Regions from separate parts of the Homo sapiens genome. Here region 1 is linked to region 2. Evidence: fine-mapped expression QTL. Tissue or cell type: prefrontal cortex. Region 2 holds a variant in brackets; the other region holds the start of a gene. All regions are shown on one strand. Distances are between the middles of the regions.

Evidence for each region. PIP is the estimated chance that this variant, and not a neighbour inherited with it, causes the effect.
Region 1: TTC5 starts here. The variant in region 2 is fine-mapped to the expression of TTC5 in prefrontal cortex (CommonMind, PIP 0.95).

The regions. Positions count from the first base shown.
Region 1 is chr14:20,302,596-20,310,704 of GRCh38, forward strand. It overlaps TTC5 (tetratricopeptide repeat domain 5), which reads right to left and starts at 3,356. Exons shown (of 10, transcript NM_138376.3): 1 at 3,292-3,356. The coding sequence starts at 3,342. RefSeq lists an enhancer at 3,262-3,501 and a silencer at 6,282-6,482.
Region 2 is chr14:20,990,633-20,998,741 of GRCh38, forward strand. It overlaps METTL17 (methyltransferase like 17), which reads left to right. Exons shown (of 14, transcript NM_022734.3): 4 at 1,492-1,573; 5 at 1,909-1,990; 6 at 2,486-2,559; 7 at 3,337-3,431; 8 at 3,911-3,981; 9 at 4,162-4,269; 10 at 4,533-4,601; 11 at 5,269-5,319; 12 at 5,577-5,660; 13 at 5,895-6,079; 14 at 6,153-6,403. The coding sequence ends at 6,258. LOC101929718 (a long non-coding RNA gene) reads right to left here. Exons shown (of 4, transcript NR_110139.1): 2 at 7,048-7,182; 3 at 6,200-6,578; 4 at 5,205-5,698. Among named protein-coding and RNA genes, the nearest start is that of SLC39A2, 4.6 kb to the right of the region's middle. RefSeq lists an enhancer at 5,497-6,696. The variant G/C (reference allele first, on the strand shown) is at 4,259.

The DNA.
Region 1 (8,109 bases), 690 kb before region 2:
TCTGGCTGCCTTGGATTTTTTACAAATAAATATTCTCTTTCCTCTTAAATGCCTCTGAGTCTTCCTGTCACACCAGGCAAAGCTTTTCTACTACAGGTCAAGCATCCCTAATGCAAAAATCTGAAATCCTCCAAAATCTGAAACTTTTGAAACGCTGACACCACAAGTAGAAAATTCCACACCTGACACACAGTCAAAATGCGGTCAAAACGTTGTTTCAGGCACAAAATTATTAAAAATATTGTATCAAATTACTTTCAGCCTATGTGTATAAAGTGTAAATGAAACAATTTTTTTTTTTTCTTTTTTAAAAGACAGGGTCACCAGGCGTGGTGGCTCATGCCTGTAATCCTAGCACTTTGGTAGTCCAAGGCAGACGGATCATGAAGAGATCGAAACCATCCTGGCCATCATGGTGAAACCCGGTCTCTACTAAAAATACAAAAATTAGCCAGGCATGGTGGCGCACACCTGTAGTCCCACCTACTCGGGAGGCTGAGGCAGGAGAATCGCTTGAACCTGGGAGGCAGAGGTTGCAGTGAGCCAAGATCATGCCACTGCCCTCCAGCCTGGCAACAGAGCAAGACTCCGTCTCAAAAAAAAAAAAAAAAGAGTCTCGTAGGTTGCCCAGGCTGGTCTCAAACTCCTGATTTCAAGCAATGCTCCCACCTCAGCCTCCCAAAGTGCTGGGACTACAGGCATAAGCCACCAAGTTTCATATTTAGATTTGGGTCCCATCCCCAAGTTATCTCATTATGTATATGCAGATATTCCAAAATTCAAAAAAATCCAAAATCCAAAAAACTTCGAGTCCTAAGCATTTCAGATAACAGATATCCTATTCTTTCCTGAAACTAAATAGATAGCAGCAGAAAGATATAATCACTTCCCTTCGAGTGTAATCAACAATCTTCACAACACATCCTGAATTCATCCACCTGTCTCCATCCCACTATGACCATTCCTGGATTACATCAGCTTCATTACTTGCCTGGACTGCAAGAGCTTCTTAACCAGTCATCTTGTTTCTGTTCTCTCCCATTCTCCTCACTGTAGTGGGAGTGATCTTATAAAAAACGTACATCATATCACAAACCTTCAAATAGTTTCCCATTGCAGACAGAATAAAATCCAAGTCCTTATCATGACCTAGAAGACTGTATGAGCTGACCTACCACCACCCATCCTGACACAAACTTCACCTCTCACCATTCTCTCTCCTACAATACTCAAGCCAGAGTTGCCTTCATGCAGTTTCTCAAACCCATCAAGCTCAGCCCACCTGGAAGACCTTATGCCTGGACACTTTCTCCAGATCTCTGCATAACTTATTCCTCATCATCATTTAGATCTTAGGTCAAATATCAATTCCAGAAAGGTTTTCCCTAATTACTCAACCCAAATGAATCCATTCCTTCTCTCCTCTACTGTTATATCATACTCTTATTTTTCTTCATACTTATTTAAAATCATGTGGCCTATCATTAATTGTCTATTGTCTGCCTCCACCACTGAAATGTAAGCTCCAGGATGGAAAGGCCTTTAATCTGTTTTGTTTCGAGCTACACCTGAGCACCAGAACGGGACTTGGGACATGATAGGCTCTAATTCACTACACTTGATTGAATTAACTAACTAACTATCCCTGTTCTAACAAATACATATGTGCTATACTTAATTTAAAATCCTATCCAGAATGAAGGGAACAGACTAGCACCCTCTGCAAATTTTATTGTATTATATCCAAGACCCAGCCTGCAGAGACTCTGATTTTAACAGTTTAGCAGAACTCAAAATTCTACATTTTTAACAGGCACCCCAGATGACTGTAATGAAACTGTCTGTAAAACACACTTTGAGAAATATCCATTTATACACTCTTTTTACACTAAAATGTCTTTAACAATGAAATCAAAGTTTACCACCATCTCCATGAACAGCAACACCATTATCTAATCCTTTTCCTCTTCTCTACTTCACTCCTTTATTCCATTCCTGCACCGACCCCACCCCAAGATAACGGAAGTATCCTCTCCCAAGCTGCTTAGGACATTTACCACAAATGAACCTAGGAAAAGACAATTCTCATAAAAAATTACAACCAATTTCCTTTTGTCCTGCAATCAACATGGCTGCAAATTAAGAGTTTTAGAGAAGGGCTTATTGATTGGTTTTAGTTGTTAAACCAAACATTCAAGAAGTTGTTTGGTTTTATTGTTTGGTTTTGTTTTCCTCTGGACTGAATGTTTTTAGAAACTTATTTTTTCATGGCAAAATCAATACATGTAAGTTGTTAAAATTCAAATAGATACATGTAAAAAAAAGAAAGTACAAAATTACCCCAAAGAACCTCAGTGATAACCACTGATTTGTATACCTTTTCAGATTTTTTTCTGTGCATATACAAACATATATACACAAATAATGTTTCTAATATAGAACCAGAATTGAGAATCTCTGATTTCAGCCAGTCACAGTTAGGGAATAAAATGAAGTTAATCCAAATCAGCTGGAACACTCTAAAAAGTGTTACTATTTTAATGTACCCAAGAACAAAGAAATTTCACCAGTATTTAAATTTGTGCGTTAAACACCTTTAGGCAAGTTACAAGCCTGTCATAGTTCTAATATTTAAGTTACAGGCTGCCTTAGAACGAAGAACTGAGTTCCTGAGGTGTAAGGAAAATCATGGGTTCTTAAAGGCAAAGAGCCAAGCAACTAGTTAACGCCTCCCTACCAAGTCCAAAAGACTAGTCTTACCTGTGGACTATGTGGAGTCTGGACCCCTCTGCATCAGACCCCAAAGTGGAATTACACAGGTTGAAAGAAATCAAAACTGAAATCCTAAGGGGAGTAACCAGGACACTTGCAGTGCAGGTCATTAGCGTGATTGTTGCCAAATTCAAAGCAGAAAGGTGTTAAATGGCTTTTGTAGGGATCAAAACAACATGTGACAGTAGTTCATGCAGATCTGCCACACACATGTATATGCTATTCGCTATGGATGAATCGAGAAAACAACGTCCTCTCTAAAAATGTACATGAACAGTTAGGAGCAACAAATCTTCTTCCATACAGGACTGAAATTAACCGCAGTCAGGTCGGCAGCAGGAGGTTCCAACGAGGCTCCCTGGCTGGCTGCGGCTGCACCCTCGAGGGTTGTTATAGTAACCACACAGACGCACGCAGCTTCGCGTGTGTGCCGAGGAATTCACGGGCAGTACATAAACTGGACTCCCTGCTTCATTCGGAGTAACAAAAACACATACAGAATTTAATCTACGGCCCCACCTGCAATTTCTGCAAGATCGGCTTGACTTCTTCCTCTTCATCAGCCATCATCTCCCGGCCACTCCACCCCCAACTTTATAACCACAGAGACGCACGCCCTCTCTCACCGCGGAACCACAGCGACATCTGGCGTTCTGGAGGCTTTTCTGCCCCAGAAGGGCTTTGCTTCAAACCGACTTAACCATTTATTTCCACAGAGATGCTCTACAATCACTTGTGAGTTCATAAACTTCTTTCTTTCCCAGATCCTGGAAACAAAATGTCCTCAGCTTAATTTCTATATTCTTGTTTCATGTCTTCCTACTTATTTATACTAAGATTATAATACTCCATAAAGAAGAGAGTTTAAGAAGTGCACACCTGTGTTGTTTGAAATTTCGAAAGCCATGTAGTACAATAGCTACTTTACTCAATCTTTTCCAAACTTTGCAGTAATTTTCTATGTATGATTAATTTTATCATTTTAATGCACTATCTTAATAAATACTACACTTGGGATGGCTCATAAAAACCACCATGCTCTACACTAACAATGCCTCCATATTTATAGACAACATCCAGAAGGATATATAAGAAAGGATGACTGTCTCTGCAGAGGGAAACACAGAAACTGGGGAACTGTGGGTGAGCGAAGAAAATTTTCACTGCCTGCCCTTTTGAATTTTCTTGCCATCTATATGTATCACCTATTCAAATATAAACATTTTTAAATAAAAAATTATTTGCTTCTACATAGTCTCTGGAAAGAGACACAAGACACTGGCAAGACTATCGCTTACAAAGAGCAGAAGTGAGTGGCTGGAGCAAAAATGAGTGACCAGGGAACTGGGGTAGACTTTTCACTCTATGCCTTTTTTGTAACTTTAAAGTTTGTACCTTGTGAATATATTAAACTTCTGAATAAATCTTTTAAAGTGTCATGTAATATTCCTGGCAGTTTTGCTTTACTTTTTTAGTTTTAATTACAGCTTCAAGCTGATTCTGTGAAACTAACAAAGAAGTAAAACGTTCAAGGCAGAAATCATGAATATACATAAAATCATTTCCTCAAATCATTTTCCAACATAAAGGAAATAGTTTGTATTGTAACCTATAAAATCTATGTCGTTAGCTGTAAAATAGGGAGGGATGTTTTAAAAATTTTTTTTTGAGATGGAGTCTCACTGTGTAGCCCAGGCTGGAGTGCAATGGCGCCATCTCGGCTCACTGCAACCTCGGCCTCCCAGGTTCAAGCGATTCTCCCGCCTCAGCCTCCCGAGTAGCTGGGGCTACAGGTGCATACCACCACGCCCGGCTAATTTTTTGTATTTTTAGTAGAGACGGGATTTCACCGTGTTAGCCAGGATGGTCTCGATCTCCTGACCTCATGATTCACCCGCCTCAGCTTCCCAAAGTGCTAGGATTACAGGCGTGAGCCACCACACCCGGCCCTAAAACTTTAAAATTTTTCATCCTCTTTCTCAGACATTTTAACTTTGGTGCACACGAGGCTGGGCACGGTGGCTCACACCTGTAATCCCAGCACTTTGGGAGGCCAAGGCGGGCAGATCACTTGAGGTCAGTTCAAGACAAGCCTGGCCAATGTGGTAAAACCCCATCTCTACTAAAGATACAAAAATTAGCCAGGTGTGGTGGCATGCACCTGTAATCCCAGCTACTTGGGAGGCCAAGACAGGAGAACCACTTGAACCCAGGAGGCAGAGGTTGCAGTGAGCCAAGATGCTGCCACTGCACTCCAGCCTGGGCAACACAGCAAGACTCCATCTCAAAAAAACAGTAATAAATAATTTTGGTGCACATTAAGAATAATTTTTAAGAGATTTTATACTCTATATTCCTAGTGAAGGAAACACTACTTGCTTTTCAATTATGTAAAGCAGGGGTATTTAATTGCCTTTCTACAATGACTAAATATATCTTCAAATGATTTCAGTATAATTTTTATTACCTAAAAAACAATGGGATTTGACATTTAGGGTAATTCCATTGTTAACACATCTTAAACCATTAAGAATCAATCCTAAAATTTAAGAGTTAGAAAAGGCTGTAAGGATAACTTAATTCAGTCCTTCATTTTACAGATACAGAGACTAAGTCCAAGAAAGTTCAAACTAAGTAGAAACCAGAACCCAGATCTTCTGCCTCTCCAGCCAGTATGCTTTCAAATCTTTCCTCTAACAGGACATAAAGTTACTGAGAATGTCCTTCAAATTTCTATCATGGCTCTACATTTTAAATAAATAAATGCATAAACAATTTAATTCCCATAATAATAGTCAGAAATACTCACTAAATAAAGGAAAACAATAAATAAATCTTTTATTTTAATACAATCTCGAGATCAATAACACATTGGTAAACTTTCTGCAGAAGTGCATTCCTAAATAAGTAAACCCAAGGCAATAGTTGACAAAAAGGTAAAGAAGTAGCTTTATTTTAAAATACAGTCTTCCTTTGGTATCTTTGGGGGATTGGTTCCAGGAACCCTCATGGATACCAAAATCCTTGGATGTTCATGTCACTTTTATAAAATGGCATGGTATTTGCATATAACCTACAGATTCTCCCAAATACTTTAAATCACCTCTAAATTATTTATAATACCTACAATGTAAATGCTATCCAAATAGTTGTTATATAGTATTGGTTTTTAATTTGTATTTTTTTATATTATTTTTTCTCAAATATTTTTGATATATGGTTGGCTGAATCTGCAGAAGCAGAACCTATGGATACAGAGCACCGACTGTAAATGCCAAAAAAATTAACTTTAAAAAATAACTTCATCAACGTGAGTTATTTTTAAATACAAATAGGGACTGAACATACATGCATCAAATTGTACTCTCGTTCACTGACATAAGCACACCTCCAAACAATACGAAGGTAAATACATAAATATATACAAATAAATACACACACCCAAATAACAAGCTACACATCACCCACCATTTTCCAAGACCAAAATTTTCACATAAACATACTGGCAAATACAGCAAAATATCAGTGTACATTAACATACTTACATATACAGATATGCATAAATACCAGAATTCAAAGCAACATGTAGCATATAACACAGGTACTTAAGGCATAAACACCACAGCTCAGTGAGAAACAGCACAGGGAGAAAGAGTTATCTATTGAAACAAATACTATTGTGACCTTCTCACACTAGGGATGAAAATTCAGCAGTTCACAATGGAATTGAGACTAATAAAATGCTTATGCTTTAAATAATAGAAACAAAGAAACCAGACTCTAAACCACTCCCCACTGCCAATGAGTTTGTTATGTTGATAATGTGAAAACAACTTCAGAGACTTAAAAGCACAGAGAAGCTGGGGAGTCCTATCTAGAAAAAAGATTTGCTACCCTGCCCCTGCCCCTGCCTCTGCCTCTGCCTCTCCCTCTCCCTCTCCCCTCTCCCCTCTCCCCTCTCCCCTCTCCCCTCTCCCTCTCGGTCTCCCTCTCCCTCTCTTTCCACTGTCTCCCTCTGATGCCGAGCCGAAACTGGACTGTACTGCTGCCATCTCGGTTCACTGCAACCTCCCTGCCTGATTCTCCTGCCTCAGCCTGCCGAGGGCCTGCGATTGCAGGCGCGCGCCACCACGCCTGACTGGTTTTCGTACTTTTTTGGTGGAGACGGGGTTTCACTGTGTTGGCCGGGCTGGTCTCCAGCTCCTAACCGCGAGTGATCCGCCAGCCTTGGCCTCCCGAGGTGCCGGGATTGCAGACGGAGTCTGGTTCACTCAGTGCTCAATGGTGCCCAGGCTGGAGTGCAGTGGCATGATCTCAGCTCGCTACAACCTCCATCTCCCAGCCGCCTGCCTTGGCCTCCCAAAGTGCCGAGATTGCAGCCTCTGCCCGGCCGCCACCCCGTCTGGGAAGTGAGGAGCGTCTCTGCCTGGCCGCCCATCGTCTGGGACGTGAGGAGCCCCTCTGCCTGGCTGCCCAGTCTGGAAAGTGAGGAGCGTCTCTGACCGGCCGCCATCCCATCTAGGAAGTGAGGAGCGCCTCTTCCTGGCAGCCATCCCGTCTGGGAAGTGAGGAGCGTCTCTGCCCGGCCGCCCATCGTCTGAGATGTGGGGAGCGCCTCTGCCCCGCCGCCCCGTCTGGGAGGTGAGGAGCGTCTCTGCCCAGCCGCCCCGTCTGAGAAGTGAGGAGACCCTCCGCCCAGCATCCGCCCCATCTGAGAAGTGAGGAGCCCCTCCGCCCGGCAGCCACCCCGTCTGGGAAGTGAGGAGCGTCTCCGCCCGGCAGCCGCCCCGTCCGGGAGGGAGGTGGGGGAGTCAGCCCCCCACCCGGCCAGACGCCCCGTCCGGGAGGTGAGGGGCGCCTCTGCCCAGCCGCCCCTACTGGGAAGTGAGGAGCCCCTCTGCCTGGCCAGCCACCCCGTCCAGGAGGGAGGTGGGGGAGTCAGCCCCCCGCCCGGCCAGCCGCCCCGTCCGGGAGGGAGGTGGGGGGGTCAGCCCCCCACCCGGCCAGCCGCCCCGTCCGGGAGGTGAGGGGCGCCTCTGCCCGGCCGCCCCTACTGGGAAGTGAGGAGCCCCTCTGCCCAGCCAGCCGCCCCGTCCGGGAGGGAGGTGGGGGGGTCAGCCCCCCGCCCGGCCAGCTGCCCCGTCCAGGAGGTGAGGGGCGCCTCTGCCCAGCCGCCCCTACTGGGAAGTGAGGAGCCCCTCTGCCCAGCCAGCCGCCCCGTCCGGGAGGGAGGTGGGGGGGCCAGCCCCCCGCCCGGCCAGCCGCCCCGTCCGGGAGGGAGGTGGGGGGGTCAGCCCCCCGCCCGGCCAGCCGCCCCGTCCGGGAGGTGAGGGGCGA
Region 2 (8,109 bases):
TTGAAATATCGGTTAGAAATGAAGAGTAAGAAATAATTCTACAATCTCTCAGATACTGAAGTCTCTTATTTGACTTTCTAACCAGAGCAGCAGTTGTTACAATGATGCCTTACTAAAAGAAGGTAGATTATTTTAGAGATTGCTTAGGTAAAGGTCAGAATGTCCCAGTATACTGTTTTTTGTTTGTTTGTTTGTTTTGTTGTTTTGTTTTTGCTTTGAGACAGAGTCTTGCTCTGTCACCCAGGCTGAAGTGTAATGCTCGATCTCGGCTCACTGCAACCTCCGCCTCCCGGGTTTAAGTGATTTTCCTGCCTCAGCCTCTTCAGTAGCTGGGATTACAGGCGTGCACCACCACACCCGGCTACTTGTATTTTTAGTAGAGACGGGGTTTCATCATGGTGGCCAGGCTAGTCTCGAACTTCTGACCTCAGGTGATCCGCCCACCTTGGCCTCCCAAAGTGCTAGGATTACAGGCATGAACCACCGCGCCTGGCTACCAATATACTGTTAAAATCTAGATATTTATTTTTTTCTGCAAGTCCACTGGATTAGGACCTTCTAAGTTTTTATTCAGGTAAAATAAAGTCCCTGGATGGTCCCTGCCCAGTACTGAAACCCTCTTCTGGGATAAGAGGGTAAATATAATTCATCAAGTTAGTTTCATGATTGTGAGCTCCTTGACACTACCATTTATTCATCTTGCATTCCCTGCACACCTCACAGTACCTGGCTCACAGTAGTTCAGTAGATACTTGCTAAATAGTACTGAACTGAACAGTCATGAGACGTAGATTTTCAGATTTCTTTCCTCTCCATAGGAATAGTGGAGATCATCAAAACCTTAAATTTTGGAGAAGTGAAGAAATCCAAAAAATAATGTCCTTGGCCTACCCTTTAAAAAAAATTTTTTTTTTTTGAGACAGAGTCTTGCTCTGTTGCCCAGGCTATAGTGCAGTGGTGCGATCTCAGCTCACCACAACCTCTGCCTCCCGGTTTCAAGTGATTCTCCTGCCTCAGCTTCCCAAGTAGCTGGGAATACAGGTGCACGCCACCACGCCTGGCTAATTTTTGTATTTTTCGTAGAGAAAGGTTTTCACCATGTTGGTCAGGCTGTTCTCAAACTCCTGACCTCGTGATCCGCCTGCCTCAGCCTCCCAAAGTGCTGAGCTTACAGGCGTGAGCCACCGCACCCAGCTTACCCTTTAAATTTGTATCACACTTTCCTTTAATATAAAACAAACCTGTGGGACAGGATTGGTTAAGCTGAATAAACCATTCTTATAAATAAAATGCTATCTGATACAATCTGTTAGTGGTAGTTGTTACCGTTAATTCTTGCCTGAAACTTTTCTCTAGGTTTGTCGTCTCCCTTGAGCTTTAAGGCTTTTCTTAGGTGGAGTCGGGGAGGACTGGGTGGGCAGTATATTCAGATATTGGATCTGAGCCCTGTTCTCCCTAGGTCCTGACTTCCAGTCCTTGTTCTCACCACAGACTTATCTCAGACAGAGGAGAAACTTCGTGGAGCAGTGCTACACGCACTACGTAAAACTACCTACCATTGGCAAGAACTGAGGTAAGGGGGCCCAGAAGAGGTGCACAAGAAAGCAAAGGTAGACTTTAGAAAGAGAGTTGGGGGAGTACAATTACACAATCAATTTAGTATTTTCTTTTATATCACCTGACCTTAAAAGGATCAATTTAGTATTTGAAAAAGCTAAAGTACAAAGTTTTGAACACTGAAGTTTGAAAATTTAGTGTTTGTAAGTCTCCCCAGGACCCTTTTGTATTGGGGAGTGAAAGGCCTGAGCTGGAAGAGCCCTTTCCAAGATGTCATTTTCTAAATCTAGAAGGTAATTATGGGATTAAGGTTATTTACTAGTATGTACAACTCTGTGATTTTAATGGCAGCTACACTGAGGGACTGAGCCTGGTGTATATGGCAGCAAGACTGGATGGTGGCTTTGCAGCAGTCTCCAGAGCATTCCATGAGGTGAAAGTCCCTTAACTTCCAACCTGAACTTTTTGACCATCAGTTCCCTATTCATAAAGTAGTTTTCTAGGATGGGGATTCTTGGGACATTGCATATGCATTTTTTTTTTAAAGAGGATCTCCGCTGGACATAGTGGGCTCCTGCCTGCAGTCCCAACTGTTTGGGAGGCTGAGGCAGGAGGATTGCTTGAGCCAGTTTGAGGCTGCAGTGAGCTGTGATCTCCACTGTACTCCAGCCTGGTGACAGAGTGAGACCTCATCTCTTAAAAAAAACACAAAATAAAGACGTTCTCTTTATCCTGTGAAAGCTTTCTGTGACCCAAGAAAGGTTTAGAATCACTATTTTAGGAGATTCTTATCCCATAAGGTATTTGTATTGAATCTCAAAAGGCATTCACATCTCACATCCTCTGTGATAGCCTCCTAATTCACATTTATCAAGGTCCTAAATAAGTATCTAATTACCCTACTGTGGGATGTTGTATATTTCTTCAGATCCGGGCTCGAAATCCAGCATTTCAGCCACAAACTTTGATGGACTTTGGCTCAGGTACTGGTTCTGTCACCTGGTGAGTAACTTTCTTCAGCCCTATCTTGGTCAATTTTAGCTCTAGAAAGCCATACTTACACCACTCCAAAATTAACAGACTGGAAAACCAGAGGGAGAATAGGCAAGTTGGGAATCTATAATGTTTCTTCCATCAGATTAGGCAAGGCAGAAGAAGGTATATGGATTGGGGCCAGAACTTAAAAGAAATGTCAAGTAAAAAAAGGCGCATGTGTAGAAAAATTAAAAAGAAAAGGAATTATCAATCAAAGTTGTTTTTGCCTACAAATAGTATTTTGAGTCTACCTTTTTTTTTTCTTTTTTGAAACGGTGTCTCACTCTGTCGCCCAGGCTGGAGTGCAGTGGCACAATCTCGGCTCACTGCAGCCTCCACTCCTGGGTTCAAGTGATTCTCCTGCCTCACCCTCCCGAGTAGCTGGGACTACAGGTGCACGCCACCACACCCAGCTAATTTTTGTATTTTTAGTAGAGACGGGGTTTCACCATATTGGCCAGGCTGGTCTCTAACTCCTGACCTTGTGATCCGCCCACCTTGGCCTCCCAAAGTGCTGGGATTACAAGCATGAGCCACTGTGCCCAGCTGAGTCTACCTTTTTTTTTTTAGGAGTTGTAAATAAAACAAGAAAATAACACTATTAGTTATTTTATTACTAACTATACAACTACTTTAACATAACACTCTCTTTTCCCAGGGGTGGGGTTGGGTGTAAATGGGCCTCTTGTAGAGATGACTCTTGGTCATGGGAATTGGTGATTTATAATAATTTTGCCATCTTAGGGCTGCTCACAGTATTTGGGGCCAGAGCCTACGTGAATATATGTGTGTGGACAGATCAGCTGCCATGTTGGTTTTGGCAGAAAAACTACTGAAAGGTGAGTGCAAGAGCACTTCCAAAGTTGAGGGAGTTAAGAAAGCAAAGGGGTACTAGTAAAAGTGTTTTACTGGGAAGTAGAGAAGAGGGTAAAAATTAAGATGAATCTGGTTTACTTTTAAAGTTATAGTCAAGCAAAGGGTGGTATTAGAGGTTTCTGCTGGACTGAGGATGGGTTGGGTAAGAATCAAAGGACAGGAGGCCTAATATTCTCCCTGCCCTTTTTTTTTTTTTTTTAATTAGAGGTAGGGTCTCCATATGTTACCCAGGCTGGTCTCAAACTCCTGGCCTCAAGCCATCCTCCCACTTCAGCCTCTAGGGTAGCTGGGATTACAGGCACGCACCGCCATACCTGGCTCATCCCTGCCCTTTTTGATATACACTTTACCTATTCTTGGGGCCATGTTTCTTATCTGGATATCTCTTCAGTTTATACCTAACTTCCTACACACTCACAGTTGCCTCTTCTTTTCTCCACAGGTGGTTCAGAATCTGGGGAGCCTTATATTCCAGGTGTCTTTTTCAGACAGTTTCTACCTGTATCACCCAAGGCAAGTGGCAGTGTTTAGAATATTCTAAATGTGGAATGTGGCAGATGGAAAACTATGGCTTGAGCTTTGCAGCCCAGCACTGAGTGTTAGAAGATAAAAGAAATTTAGCGGCTAGGACTTTGTTGTATTCTTGGGATGTAGAGATGTTGAGTCTGTCATGTTCCTTGTCTTGGTCCTCAGGTGCAGTTTGATGTAGTAGTGTCAGCTTTTTCCTTAAGTGAACTGCCCAGCAAGGCTGACCGCACTGAGGTAGTTCAAACCTTATGGCGTAAGACAG[G/C]TCATTTCCTGGTGAGTTAAAATTCCTTGTTCTCCTTAAGTCTTGAAGCAGCTTCATGGATTTCATGCCTTTGCTCCTCTCATTGTCTTTATTCTTCACCATTTTTCTCCTTCATGGGTTTCTTTATCCCTCTTTGAGGGTCTCCATCCTGATTATGTAATGCCTATTTCTTTTTAGGACTCCTTCTCCCTCTATGATTGCTCTTACACAGCTACTGACATTTATACTTTCGTGTAATTCAAGTCTTCTGCATATTTTCCCCTTTTGTGAACAGGTACTGGTGGAGAATGGAACAAAAGCTGGGCACAGCCTTCTCATGGATGCCAGGGATCTGGTCCTTAAGGTAAGGCTTCTTCTTCCCTCACTCCCCCACCCATATGGCACCAATTACTGTTACTCTCTTGAAAACGAAAGAGACTGTCATGTATTGACAAGGGTGGCTCTCAGGAAACTGGGCGTATGAAGTCATTATGATACAGAGCAGTGGTTGGCAAATGAGAGCCTGTGGATCAAATCCGACCTGCCACCTGTTTTTATATAAGCCATGCTTATTTGTGCCTCTGTTGTCTGTGACTGCTTTCACACTACAAACAGCAGAGTTGAGTAGTTGGGACAGAGATAGATTTTGCCTACTCTCTGGCCCTTTAAAAGAAACTTTGCGGACTCCTAATCTAGGGCATTGCTGAGCTAAGAACCTTGTCACTGGGGGAGAGTATGAGCCAGTGTATAATCATAAATTTAATTGTCCTGGAGTGGGATTTTTTTGAGAGTGGAGGTTGCTGACAAGGGAGAGCACCGTACTATGTGCCAAGTTCTTGCCTTTCTCCTGCAGCAAAGAGAAAGTTCTTTGTTTGGAGTATTAAAGATGCAGCCAGCTTAATTCAAAGGACATAGTCAATCGTTATTAGAATTGAGTGTTAAAGGAGTCCTCAGTTTACTGAGTGCAGAGATTGAATTATGAAAATAGACCCTTGGCCCAGCTTTATTTCTTTTATTTCCTTTGATTTCAGGGAAAAGAGAAGTCACCTTTGGACCCTCGACCTGGTTTTGTCTTTGCCCCGGTGAGTATTACTTCTGCCTGTCCCACCACACGGATCTGAACTTAGGCGTGGCCGGGAAATGTAAGATGGTAAAGCTAAGCCACTCTCCACTACTTTGTGTTCCTATCCAGTTCCTACCTAATGATTCCCCTGGCTCTTCCTACCCACTGCTCCTGTCCTCCCTTCTCCCTGGCCCCTTTTGACTCTATTATTCTCAGTTTTTAAGTTTTGTGATTGATGGCTCTTTTGTCTTACCTCATTTTTTTATGTGTTCACAGTGTCCCCATGAACTCCCTTGTCCCCAGTTGACCAACCTGGCCTGTAGCTTCTCACAGGCGTACCATCCCATCCCCTTCAGCTGGGTAGGTACCTGGGGATATTGCAGCAGGAAGCAAACATCCTGGAAAAACAGGAAGAAAAAGAATCAGAGTTAGGAGGAGTTGGATAATTTGTAGAATAGCCTGGAGACTTTAGGGCCTACATGTATATGATTTATACATTGTAAAAAAGGACTGCAGGAATGGGGAAGAAGGGACTGTACAAACTTTTTTCCCATATCTTTTTCTTCTAAACAGTCTCTATGTTCCTTATCTTAGAACAAGAAACCAAAGGAAGAAAAGTTCTCTATGGTGATCCTTGCTCGGGGGTCTCCAGAGGAGGCTCATCGCTGGCCCCGTATCACTCAGCCTGTCCTTAAACGGCCTCGCCATGTGCATTGTCACTTGTGCTGTCCAGATGGGCACATGCAGCATGCTGTGCTCACAGCCCGCCGGCACGGCAGGTATGGGGGGTGTGACCAAAATCAGTGGGATGTGGCAGGAAGCTGCAGCCCACGCCAGCATCTGTTTCCACAGGGATTTGTATCGTTGTGCCCGTGTCAGCTCCTGGGGAGATCTTTTACCTGTGCTTACTCCGTCTGCGTTTCCTCCATCTACGGCTCAGGATCCCTCTGAGAGTTGATGAGGATGTGTAACAAGTATTTTCTTCTATCGTGCCTGCCAGGGCTGAAGCTGCCTGGTATCCAGGAGGGGAATGCTGGTATCCCCATATGTCTGTGTTTGTTTGAGATTTTTAATAATAAATAATAAATTTTTGAAGAATGGAAGTGGATTTTGTGATTCTTAAAAAGTGTAGAAGCTGGGCACGGTGGCATGTGTCTGCATTTCCAGCCACTCAGGAAGCTGAGGCAAGAGGATCACTTGAGCCCAGGTGTTAAGGCTACAGTGAACTTTGATTGTAACACTGCACTTCAGCATAGGTAACAGAGCAAGACGTCCTCCCTTAAAAAAAAAAAAAAAAAAAAAACATGTAAAAGGTATAGTTAATTATCCTGGCCTATCCTGTAATGAAGAGCTTCCTCAGATTTTTGGTGCCAGGCTTCCCACACAAATCTCAAGCTCGCCCTCTCCTATTGTGGCAGTTCAGAGCTCCATAAGCTCTTCGCTGTAATGATGAATGTGTAAGCTGATCATTAAAGCAGAAGTAGAAAAACCAGATTTCCATAAGCCCTTTGCTATAATGATGAATGTACAAGTTAAACATTAAAGCAGAAGCAAGAAAAATGGATAAGGAATCGGGGGAAACTGGTGCCTGAGTACGAAAGCCAGAATACAAAAAAAGCAAGCCCTTTAAAGCCCCACCTATACTTTCTCTACCTCAGATCTAGCTGAGTGATAAAAGCATTCCTGCACATACAACCCATCCCAGGACCAACTTAAGATTAAGAAACTTCTGTCTGCAAGTACTCACTCACTATGGTGGGATCAGCTGCAAAGCGAACTGTCCCATGCTCATGTTGATGGTTTTCTAGATACTGCCAACATGTTAGCTCTTTCTGGTGCCGATGAATTTCAAACGCGAACAGACACCCTTGATGTGGGTTTGCTAAGAAAATAGAAGAACAGGAAGAAAAGTTGCCAGGTTCAGACATCCCAGGGAAAAAGAAGCGTAAACAGCATTAGCAATCAGTGACTGATGATAATGCTGCAATAATGGGAATGGTTTTATTTCTAAATCAAATCGTTTATTGCTTTGTTTCTAAAAAACAAAAAAAAAACTTCTACCTGCAGACCCCTAGTTTAGATTAATTAGGAAACATTCCCGCAGGTAGTCATAGAGCTTGAATTGTATATAAAAGCTAAAGAAAAGCTTGTAACTTTGAGTTGGTCTGGTGTGCTACTCCGACCTCCCTGTAATCAGTTGCAGAAATAAACTCCCGTCTTTCCCAGTCTGTCTGTCTGCATCTCATTACCGGACCACAAGAACAAGCAGCAGGACCAGTAACACTGTAAGAATCATCCAGTAACACTGTAAGAATACTGCTTCTACCAGAGGCCAGGACTTCCCTAGGAAAATAATCTGGAGTAGCAAGGAAAGCTGCCTCCAGAGCTCTGAGAACTGGCTCAACAGGTCTCAGGGTTGTTATGTGGGCCACCTGAATAGGGGAATCAGCAGCTGCCTGGCCTCTTGTACTAACGCCTTCCCTTCTGTCTTTCCCAGGGTCCCTCAGCTACCCTAGAGTATGTATGGGAAATGCCCCAGACATTTCCATCAAGAGTGATTCCCATCAGAACTGAATCTTCTACCCCCACCTCTCTATATCCAGGTAGAATCCTCCCATTCACTCAGTTCATTTCTGTTTTCCCCTAAGCCTTGCTGTTTCAGGGCTAGAGCAGCTTCCTTTGTCTTAAACCTTAAATGTCTTTTTTTCCACAGTTCTTACCAGGAAACAGGCACAGTTAGAAGTTGTAACAGTATAAATGTTGTAATACCAGACATCTCAACTCATTCCTCTCAAAACTGATCCCAATC